Linked DNA regions of Homo sapiens: region 1 is linked to region 2. Evidence: fine-mapped expression QTL. A gene starts in region 2. The other region holds a variant in brackets. All regions are shown on one strand. Distances are between the middles of the regions.

Evidence for each region. PIP is the estimated chance that this variant, and not a neighbour inherited with it, causes the effect.
Region 1: its variant is fine-mapped to the expression of CGAS in whole blood (INTERVAL, PIP above 0.99).

Annotation. Positions count from the first base shown.
Region 1 is chr6:73,423,529-73,428,965 of GRCh38, reverse strand. It overlaps CGAS (cyclic GMP-AMP synthase), which reads left to right. Exons shown (of 5, transcript NM_138441.3): 4 at 155-257; 5 at 3,388-5,255. The coding sequence ends at 3,739. Among named protein-coding and RNA genes, the nearest start is that of CGAS, 26 kb to the left of the region's middle. The variant C/TTTATC (reference allele first, on the strand shown) is at 2,617.
Region 2 is chr6:73,450,342-73,455,341 of GRCh38, reverse strand. CGAS (cyclic GMP-AMP synthase) reads left to right here and starts at 3,045. Exons shown (of 5, transcript NM_138441.3): 1 at 3,045-3,817. The coding sequence starts at 3,161. RefSeq lists an enhancer at 2,764-3,243 and a silencer at 3,414-3,623.

The sequences.
Region 1 (5,437 bases), 27 kb after region 2:
ACCCACCCTCCTCGGCCTCCCAAAGTACTGAGATTACAGGCGTGAGCCCCCATGCCCAGCCCCAGGATATTTTCATGAGGGAAACCACTTGAATATTGTTTAGATATGGATGCTTTGGGTAAAGTGCTTTTTTGTTTTTCTTTTTGAAATTAAGAAGAAACATGGCGGCTATCCTTCTCTCACATCGAAAAGGAAATTTTGAACAATCATGGAAAATCTAAAACGTGCTGTGAAAACAAAGAAGAGAAATGTTGCAGGTAACAGCCTTATTTTGTTAAATGACAGATTATCTATGGTATGCTTAATTATTTGTTGACTCCACACCTCAGACCTGAAGAGCTGAGCTGGGTTGGGTCTGGGGGGCAGGGCAGGATTGGGTTGAGCTGGGGAGAGTGTGAGTATGAAACCAGAGAAGCTAGATCCAAAGGGCCAAGGAAAGGGTGTTGTTAGAAGGCAAGGCCGGGGAATAGTAGTTCTGAACCCTGGATCAGATGAATGTGTTTTTGTATAGATGTATCAGTAGGACAGAGTGAGAGGGTATGAGCACTAGCCATGACAATTCGATGGGTCTTAGTATTCTGCTTGTTTAAAAGTAATGGATATTAATGCCATATAATTGGAGGAGGCCAAAAGGTCGCTCTTATTAGATACTGGGCTTGCTTTGGGATAGTTGGGTTGTGTTGACGGCTAGGGATTGATTGGCCAAACTGAAAACAACACTAAGTGAGTAATTTTTTTTTTTGAGACAGACTTTCACTCTGTCACCCAGACTGGAGTGCAGTGGCACAATTACGGCTCACCACAGCCTCGATCTCCTGGGCTCAAGCAATCATCCTACCTCAGCCCCCCAAGTAGCTGAGATTACAGGTGCATGCCACCATGCTCGGCTAATTTAAAAAAAAATTTTGTAGAGGGCCTGTTGGCTCACACCTGTAATCCCAGCCTAGCAACATGGTGAGACCCCACCTCCATAAAAAATTTAAAAATTAGCCAGGCATGGTGACTGGTGCCTGTGGTCCCAGCTACTTGGAAGGCTGAGGTAGGAGAATGGCTCGAGCCCAGAAAATCAAGGCTGCAGTGAGCCATGATCGTGCCACTGCACTGCAACCTGGGTGACATAGTGACACCCTGTCTCAAAAAAAATTTTTTTTATTGGTAGAGATGGTGGTCTCCCTTTGTTGCCCAGGCAGGCTGGTCACCAACTCCTGGGTTCAAGTAAACTTCCCGCCTTGGCCTCCCAAAGTCTTGGAAGTACGGGGATGAGACACTGCACCCCACCATTTTTTTTTGTGATGGCATACACACCATAAAGAACTAAGATTGAAAAGGAATTGTTCATTTGAGTTTCTAAAGTTGGCCAGTATTGGCCAGGCATGGTGGCTCAAGGCCTGCAATCCCAGCACTTTGGGAGGCCAGGGCAGGTGGATCACCTGAGGTCAGGAATTCGAGACCAGCCTGGCCTACGTGGCGAAACCCCGTCTCTACTAAAAATACAAAAATTAGCTGGGCGCAGTGGCACGTGCCTGTAATCCCCGCTACTCAGGAGGCTGAGGCAAGAGAATCACCTGAACCCGGGAGACAGAGGTTGCAATAAGCTGAGATCATGCCACTGCACTCCAGCCTGGGCAACAGAGCAAGACTCCATCTTAAATAAATAAATAAATAAATAAATAAATAAATAAATAAAGTAAGTTGGCCAGTATAAAGATCACAAAAGTTAAAAAGTCAAAACAAAAATGCCCAACATGCAGGCACAGAGGTTCTTTAAGATCTCATATGCAGGCTTTGAAGTAAGCATTAAGAAAACTATATTGTTGGCCAGGCACAGTGGCTCACGCCTGTAATCCCAGCACTTTGGGAGGCCGAGGCAGGTAGATCACCTGAGGTCAGGAGTTCGAGACCAGCCTGGCCAACGTTATGAAACCCCGTCTCTACAAAAATGCAAAAATTAGCCGGGCGAGGTGGCATGCACCTGTAATCCCAGCTACTTAGGAGGTTGAGGCAGGAGAATCGCTTGAACCCAGTAGGCAGAGGTTGCGGTGAGCTGAGATCACACCACTGCACTCCAGCCTGGGCAACAGAGCGAGACTCCATCTCAAAAAAAAAGGAAAAAGAAAAAAAAAAAGAAATATTGTTGATAAGGCTAAATAGTTTCATAAATAGTACATTTTGTCAACTACTAAATAACTAGATGAGATGGCAGATTATCTATGGTACTCTTAATAATGTAAATAATTCTGTGATACAATCAGTGGATTTTAGAAAAGAAAAAATTTATATTAAATTTGCAGTTCAATAAAGTAAAATAATTTTATAACAAAACAAGATTTTGGATCGCTTGAGGGGGGTGAGGGGAGGGTCAGAGGTTGCAGTGAGCCGAGATTGTATCACTGCATCCCAGCCTGGGTGACAGAGTGAGACCCTGTCTCAAAAAAAAAAAAAATAGTATAAATATCTGTTAGCTTTATACAGTTGAAGAAATTCATAGAATATATTTAAGCTAAGAATGGGAAAGAGAGGGAAAAAATGTGTTTTTGAAACTTCAAACCATATATTTGAAAACATAATCAGATTTTAGTGTGACTGTTGTATTTATTTTATTTTATTTTATTTTAT[C/TTTATC]ATTTCATTTCATTTCATTTATTTCATTTTATTTTATTATTTTATTTTATTTTATTTTATTTTATTTTGAGATGGAGTCTCACTTGTTGCCCAGGCTGGAGTGCAGTGGCATGATCTTGGCTCACTGCAACCTCTGCCTCCTGGGTTCAAGTGATTCTCCTGCCTCAGCCTCCCGAGTAGCTGGGATTATAGGTGCACGCCACCACACCTGGCTAATTTTTGTATTTTTAGTAGAGATGGGGTTTCAGCATACTGGCCAGGCTGATCTCGAACTCTTGACCTCGTGATCCGCCTGCCTAGGCCTCCCAAAGTGCTGGGATTACAGGCATGAGCCACCGCGCCCGGCTTTTTTGTTTTTGTTTTTGTTTTCTGTGTGTGACAGAGTTTCGTTCTTGTTGCCCAGGCTGGAGTGCAATGACGCGATCTTGGCTCACTGCAACCTCCGCCTCCTGGCTTCAAGCGATTCTCGTGCCTCAGCCTGCAGAGTAGCTGGGATTACAGGCGTGCGCCACCACGCCCAGCTAATTTTGTATTTTTAGTAGAGACGGGGTTTCACCATATTAGTCAGGCTGGACTCAAACTCTTGATCTTAGGTGATCCCCCTGCCTCAGCCTCCCAAAGTGCTGGGATTACAGGCGTTGTGTCACCACGCCCGGCCTATATTTATGTTATTATATATCTTTATTGTTTATATTTTTGCTATGAGATGCCTAAAATCCTTTGTTGAATGTAAATAAGTAAAAATAAGTGTTTTCCTTTTTTATTCAACAGGAAAGATTGTTTAAAACTAATGAAATACCTTTTAGAACAGCTGAAAGAAAGGTTTAAAGACAAAAAACATCTGGATAAATTCTCTTCTTATCATGTGAAAACTGCCTTCTTTCACGTATGTACCCAGAACCCTCAAGACAGTCAGTGGGACCGCAAAGACCTGGGCCTCTGCTTTGATAACTGCGTGACATACTTTCTTCAGTGCCTCAGGACAGAAAAACTTGAGAATTATTTTATTCCTGAATTCAATCTATTCTCTAGCAACTTAATTGACAAAAGAAGTAAGGAATTTCTGACAAAGCAAATTGAATATGAAAGAAACAATGAGTTTCCAGTTTTTGATGAATTTTGAGATTGTATTTTTAGAAAGATCTAAGAACTAGAGTCACCCTAAATCCTGGAGAATACAAGAAAAATTTGAAAAGGGGCCAGACGCTGTGGCTCACACCTGTAATCCCAGCTCTTTGGAGGCCGAGGCAGGCGGATCACTTGAGGTCAGGAGTTTGAGACCAGCCTGACCAACATGGTGAAACTCCATCTCTACTAAAAATATAAAAATTAGCCGGGCATGGTGATGCATGCCTGTAATCCCAGCTACTCGGGAGGCTTAGACATGAGAATCACTTGAACCCAGGAGGTGGAGGTTGCAGTGAGTCAAGATGGCACCACTGCACTCCATCCTGGGTGACAGAGCAAGACTTCCTCTCAAAAAATAAATAAATAAATAAGAAAAATAAATTAGGAAATTATTAAAATAATTTTTTAGAAAAGCAACAAAATAACAAAAATTAGTGACTGTAATAATTGGAATGTTTGAAATTTGTCACAGCAATAATTGACTAAAATGAATGTAAATAATTATTCAGTTTTCAGTTTGTTGTAATAAACTCTAATCAGTATAAAGGATTGACTATCCTAGGAAAAAGATTAGTCAAGGAATAAGAAGCAAAAGTAGTATTTGAAATCTAAAAACATTACCATGTTTGCTTTATCATGCAGGCAAATAAATAAATAAATGACATTTTTAGGTTGGAATAAAAAAAGATAAAGTACATATTGCCTTAATTAAATTCATCAAGTTCTTACTGAAAAACAGCTCTCCGCCGTGCCTGGCCAGGAAATACATAATTTTTTTTTTTTTTTTTTAGATGGAGTCTCGCTCTGTCGCCCAGGCTGGAGTCCAGTGGCATGATCTTGGCTCACTGCAAGCTCTGCTTCCTGGGTTCATGCCATTCTCCTGCCTCAGCCTTCCGAGTAGCTGGGACTACAGGTGCCCGCCACCACATCCGGCTAATTTTTTGTATTTTTAGTAAAGATGGGGTTTCACCATGTTAGCCAGGATGGTCTCGATCTCCTTACCTTGTGATCCGCCCGCCTTGGCCTCCCAAAGTGCTGGGATTACAGGTGTGAGCCACCACGCCTGGCTGAAATACATAATCTTAAAAGAAAACATAAGATACTTTATTTTAATATACGTGACTAAATGTAAAACCTAACTTATTTTCTGTTATCTATTTATTTTTACTTTCAGTAACACTTTTTTTATTTTAGGTAGCATTCAGCCTAGAGGCAACTGCTGTTTGTTAAATATTTCCTGTTCATATATTTTGCACATTTTCTTATGGGTTAGTTTTCTTCTCATTGTTTTGGGAAGTTCTTAATATATTTGGGGTATTTATCTTTCATTCGTTGTCTGTGTAACAAATAACTTCTGCCATATGGGTTGTCTGCACATTTTTTGGTGTCTTTTAGTAAACAAGGTTTTTTTGTTTTGTATTGTTTTGTTTATTGTAAAGATTTTTAAATTTTAATGGAGTTGATTTCTTTTCTCATTCAAGCTTTTGAGAATAAATTGGAGTTGAATTTTTTATGGTTTTTGCTTTATACATCTTGTTTAACAGCCTACTATGTTTGAACATACTAAGAGAAACATTAGACATTTGAAGAGTTTTGGGGACAATTAATGATAAATAAACCACTATGCAAATAAAATAATCTAAGCAATTTTTTTTTTTTTTGGGACAGTCTCACTCTGTCGCCCAGGCTGGAG
Region 2 (5,000 bases):
CAGCCTGGTCAACATGGTGAAACCCCGTCTCTACTAAAAAGGTAAAAAAATTAGCTGGGTGTGGTGGCAGGCGCCTATAATCCCAGCTACTCAGGAGGTTGAGGCAGGAGAATCGCTTGAACCCAGGAGGCGGAGGTTACAGAGAGCCGAGATAGCACCATTGCACTCCAGCCTGGACAACAAAAGTGAAACTCCATCTCGAAAAAAAAAAAAAGATATTTGAAAGCCTGTATTGAGATACTCTAGAATCACAACAGCTGAAGCAGTATGAATGATTTAAAATGTAAATGCCAGGTCCGGTGCAGTGGCTCATGCCAGTAACAGCACTTTGGGAGGCTGAGGCGGGCAGATAGCTTGTTGGGGACCAGCCTGGGCAACATGGTGAAACCACATTTCTACAAAACCATACAAAAATTAGCTGGGCATGGTGGGGCACGCCTGTAGTCCCAGCTGCGCAAGAGGCTGAGTCACGAGAATCTCTTGAACCCGGGAGGCGGAGGGTGTGGTGAGCTGAGATTGTACCATTGCACTCCAGCCTGGGCAACAAGAGCAAAACTCCGTCTCAAAAATGAATAAAATAAAATAAAATAAAAAGAGAGAACTTTACACAACTTTTTTTCCCCCTGAGACAGAGTCATTTGCCCTGTCGCCCAGGATGGAGTGCAGTGGTCTGATCTCAGCTCATTACCACCTCCGCTTTCCCGATTCAAGCAATTCTCCCGTCTCAGCCTCCCCAGTAGCTGGGTTTACAAGCATGGCCCACCACACCTGGCTAATTTTTGTATTTTTAGTAGAGATGGGTTTTCACCATGCTGGACAGGCTGGTCTTGAACTCCTGACCTCAAGTGATCCACCCACCTTCGCCTTCCAAAGTGCCGGGATTATAGGCGTGAGTCACCGCACCAGGCAGAAACTTTACACAACATTTTAAAGATTTTCTGTGCTTTTTAAAAAATGTCAAATAGAAGTATTTACTCCAATTGCAGTCAATCTTTGTTTCATTCCATCTTGTAAAAGTTGAATATTTTCTCTTTCTTATTTTTTTCTTTTTTCAAAGTATTTTTCATTTGTTATTAATTTTTTTCTTTTTAAAAATTATTATTTTATTTCTTATTGATTTTTAAAAAACCCTATTTAAATTTACATTGAAAAAGTTGGCCGGGCGCTGAGGCTCATGCCCGTAATCCCAACAGTTTGGGAGGCCGAGGCAGGTGGATCACGAGATAAGGAGTCCCAGACCAGCCTGGCCAATATGGTGAAACTCCTTTCTACTAAAAATACAAAAATTAGCCGGGCATGGCGGCGCACACCTGTAGTCCCAGCTACTTCGGAGGCTGAGGCAGGAGAATCGCTTGAATCCGGGAGGCAGAGGTTACAGTGAGCCGAGATCGTGCCACTGCACTCCAGCCTAGGGGACAGAATGAGACTCCATCTCAGGAAAAAAAAAAAAAAAAAGGGAAAAGTTTCTGGCCAGGCGCCGTGGCTCACGCCTGTAATCGCAGCACTTTGGGAGGCCGAGGCGGGTGGATCACTTGAGGTCAGCAGTTTGAGAGCAGCCTGGCCAACATAGCGAAACCCCGTCTCTACTAAAAATACGAAAAATTAGCCGGGCGTGGTGGCGGGCGTCTGTAATCCCAGCTACCCGGGAGGCTGAGGTAGGAGAATTGCTTGAACCCAGGAGGCAGAGGTTGCAGTGAGCCAAGATCGCACCATTGCACTTCGGCCTGGGTGACAAGAGCGAAATTCTGTCTCAAAAAAAAAAAAAAAAAAAAAGAAAGAAAGAAAGAAAAGAAAAAGAAAAAAAAGAAAAGAAAAAGTTTCTGTGGCAGGGCACAGTGGCTCATGCCTACAATCCCAACACTTTGGGAGGTTGAGGAGGGAGAATCGCTTGAGTCTAGGAGTTCGAGACCAGCCTGGGCAACATAGTGAGACCTCCCCATGTATACAAAAAAATTAAAAAGAAAAGAAAAAGCTGGGCATGGTGTCCGCACCTGTAGTAACAGCTACTCAGGATGCTGAGGTGGGAGGATCGCTTGAGCCCTGGTGGCTGAGGTTGCAGTGAGCCGAGATTGCGCCCCCCTAACTCAAACCAAAATTAAATTTAAAAAAACTTTCACTTGAAAGAGAAAAGTTTCTCTGTCAATGTTTTTGTTTTGTTTTGTTTTGTTTTGTGATGGACTCTTTTTCTGTTGCCCAGGCTGGAGTGCAGTGGCGCGATCTCGGCTCACTGCAACCTCTGCCTCCCGGGTTCAAGCAGTTCTCTGTCTCGGCCTCCCGAGTAGATGGGACTACAGGCGCCACCAAGCCCGGCTAATTTTTTGTATTTTTAGTAGAGACGGGGTTTCACCATGTTGGCCAGGAAGGTCTCGATGTCTTGGCCTCGTGATCCGCCCGCCTCGGCCTCCCAAACTGCTGAGATTACAGGCGTGAGCCACCACGCCTGGCCTCTTTTTCTTTTTTGAGACAGAGTCTCGCTCTGTCGCCCAGGCTGGAGTGAAGTGGCACGTCTCAGCTCACTGCAACCTCCGCCTCCCGGGTTCAAGTGATTCTCCAGCCTCAGCCTCCCGAGTAGCTGGGATTACAGGTGCCCGCCACCACGCCTAGCTAATATTTGTATTTTTTAGTAGAGACGGGGTTTCTTTCGCCTTGTTGGCCAGGCTGGTCTTGAACTCCTGACCTCAGGTGATCCGCCCACCTCGGTCTCCCAGATTGCTGGGATTACAGGCGTGAGTCAGTGTGCCCAGGCAACACACACACACACATATATTTAATTATAAGAAAGACCAGGTCTTGCTGGGTTGCCCAGGCTGGTCTCAAACTCCTGAGCTCAAGCGACCCGCCTGCCTCGGCCTCTCGGATGCTGAGGTTACAGGCGTGAGCCACCGCGCCCGGCCCTACCTCATCTTCTTAAGACAGGGGCACGGATTGCCTGGAGAGTTAGAAACTTCGAGACTTTTGTAGCCTCAGGAAAGGCCGCGGCCAGCCTCTTCGCGGCATGGGCGTGGCTCCCAGCGACTTCCCAGCCTGGGGTTCCCCTTCGGGTCGCAGACTCTTGTGTGCCCGCCAGTAGTGCTTGGTTTCCAACAGCTGCTGCTGGCTCTTCCTCTTGCGGCCTTTTCCTGAAACGGATTCTTCTTTCGGGGAACAGAAAGCGCCAGCCATGCAGCCTTGGCACGGAAAGGCCATGCAGAGAGCTTCCGAGGCCGGAGCCACTGCCCCCAAGGCTTCCGCACGGAATGCCAGGGGCGCCCCGATGGATCCCACCGAGTCTCCGGCTGCCCCCGAGGCCGCCCTGCCTAAGGCGGGAAAGTTCGGCCCCGCCAGGAAGTCGGGATCCCGGCAGAAAAAGAGCGCCCCGGACACCCAGGAGAGGCCGCCCGTCCGCGCAACTGGGGCCCGCGCCAAAAAGGCCCCTCAGCGCGCCCAGGACACGCAGCCGTCTGACGCCACCAGCGCCCCTGGGGCAGAGGGGCTGGAGCCTCCTGCGGCTCGGGAGCCGGCTCTTTCCAGGGCTGGTTCTTGCCGCCAGAGGGGCGCGCGCTGCTCCACGAAGCCAAGACCTCCGCCCGGGCCCTGGGACGTGCCCAGCCCCGGCCTGCCGGTCTCGGCCCCCATTCTCGTACGGAGGGATGCGGCGCCTGGGGCCTCGAAGCTCCGGGCGGTTTTGGAGAAGTTGAAGCTCAGCCGCGATGATATCTCCACGGCGGCGGGGATGGTGAAAGGGGTTGTGGACCACCTGCTGCTCAGACTGAAGTGCGACTCCGCGTTCAGAGGCGTCGGGCTGCTGAACACCGGGAGCTACTATGAGCACGTGAAGGTGAGCTGCTTGGCGCCCTCCCGCCGAGCCCCGCTGCTCGGCCTTCCGCAATCCGCAGTCCCTACCTTCCCCGGGTCGCGCCCCTCACTTCCCTTCGGAAGTAACTTAGACTTTTGCATGTTTTTCGGTAGCCTAGTCTAAGTAAAACGACAAACCGTTCGTTTATTCATCTACACATCCAACGATCAGACAACCAACCGGTACTGATTGCTGGCTAATTTCAAGACACTGCTCCCGGGGGAATTCAAATGTATGGGTTCATTCATGCAAGCCGACATGTATCGAGTTTCCGTAACAGGGCAGTGTTTGATGGTGTGGACCTGAGGTCCCGAGTCAGATATTGACTTGGATAATTTGAAGTGGTCTGTTAAAAATTCCACGTAGACTTTTTCCTATGAGGAAGACCTCTTACTCCATAGAAAAAAAGATCTTCAGTTTCTCTCCCCCTCTTCCTCCCTGCCCCCTCTCCTGCTATCCCGTCTGACCCCAATTTCTTTTTTTTCTTTTTTCTTTTCTTTTCTTTTTTTTTTTTTTTGAGGCGGAGTCTCGCTGCGTCCCCCAGGCTGGAGTGCAGTGGCGCTATCTCGGCTCACTGCAAGCTCCGCCTCCCGGGTTCACGCCATTCTCCTGCCTCAGCTTCCCGAGTAGCTGGGACTACAGGCGCCCGCCACCATGCCCGGCTAATTTTTTTTGTATTTTTAGTAGAGACGGTGTTTCACCGTGTTAGCCAGGATGGTCTCGATCTCCTGACCTCTTGATTCGCTCGTCTCGGCCTCTCAAAGTGCTGGGATTACAGGCGTGAGCTACCGCGCCCGGCCGTCTGTCCCCAGTTTCTTACACAGAAATCATGGGAAGCTTACAGTATAATGTTAAACAAACAAATAAGAATATCTCCTACAGATACTAAAACGCTTTCTAGATACACATTCCGTATAATTGCTTCGACGTGTGTATTACACAGCTCCATTTGCTTGTGGGTGATTGAGTCATTAATCATTCCTGTGTAAATTGAAAGTTTAGAAGCAGGTTCCTGACTGGAGCGTGTTTCTTGCCCAGCAAGAGATTTGTTTCTTTTTCTTTTTCTTTCTTTCTTTCTTTTTTTTTTTTTTGAGACGGAGTTTCGCTCTTGTTACCCAGGCTGGAGTGCAATGGCGCGATCTCAGCTCACCTCAACCTCCACCTC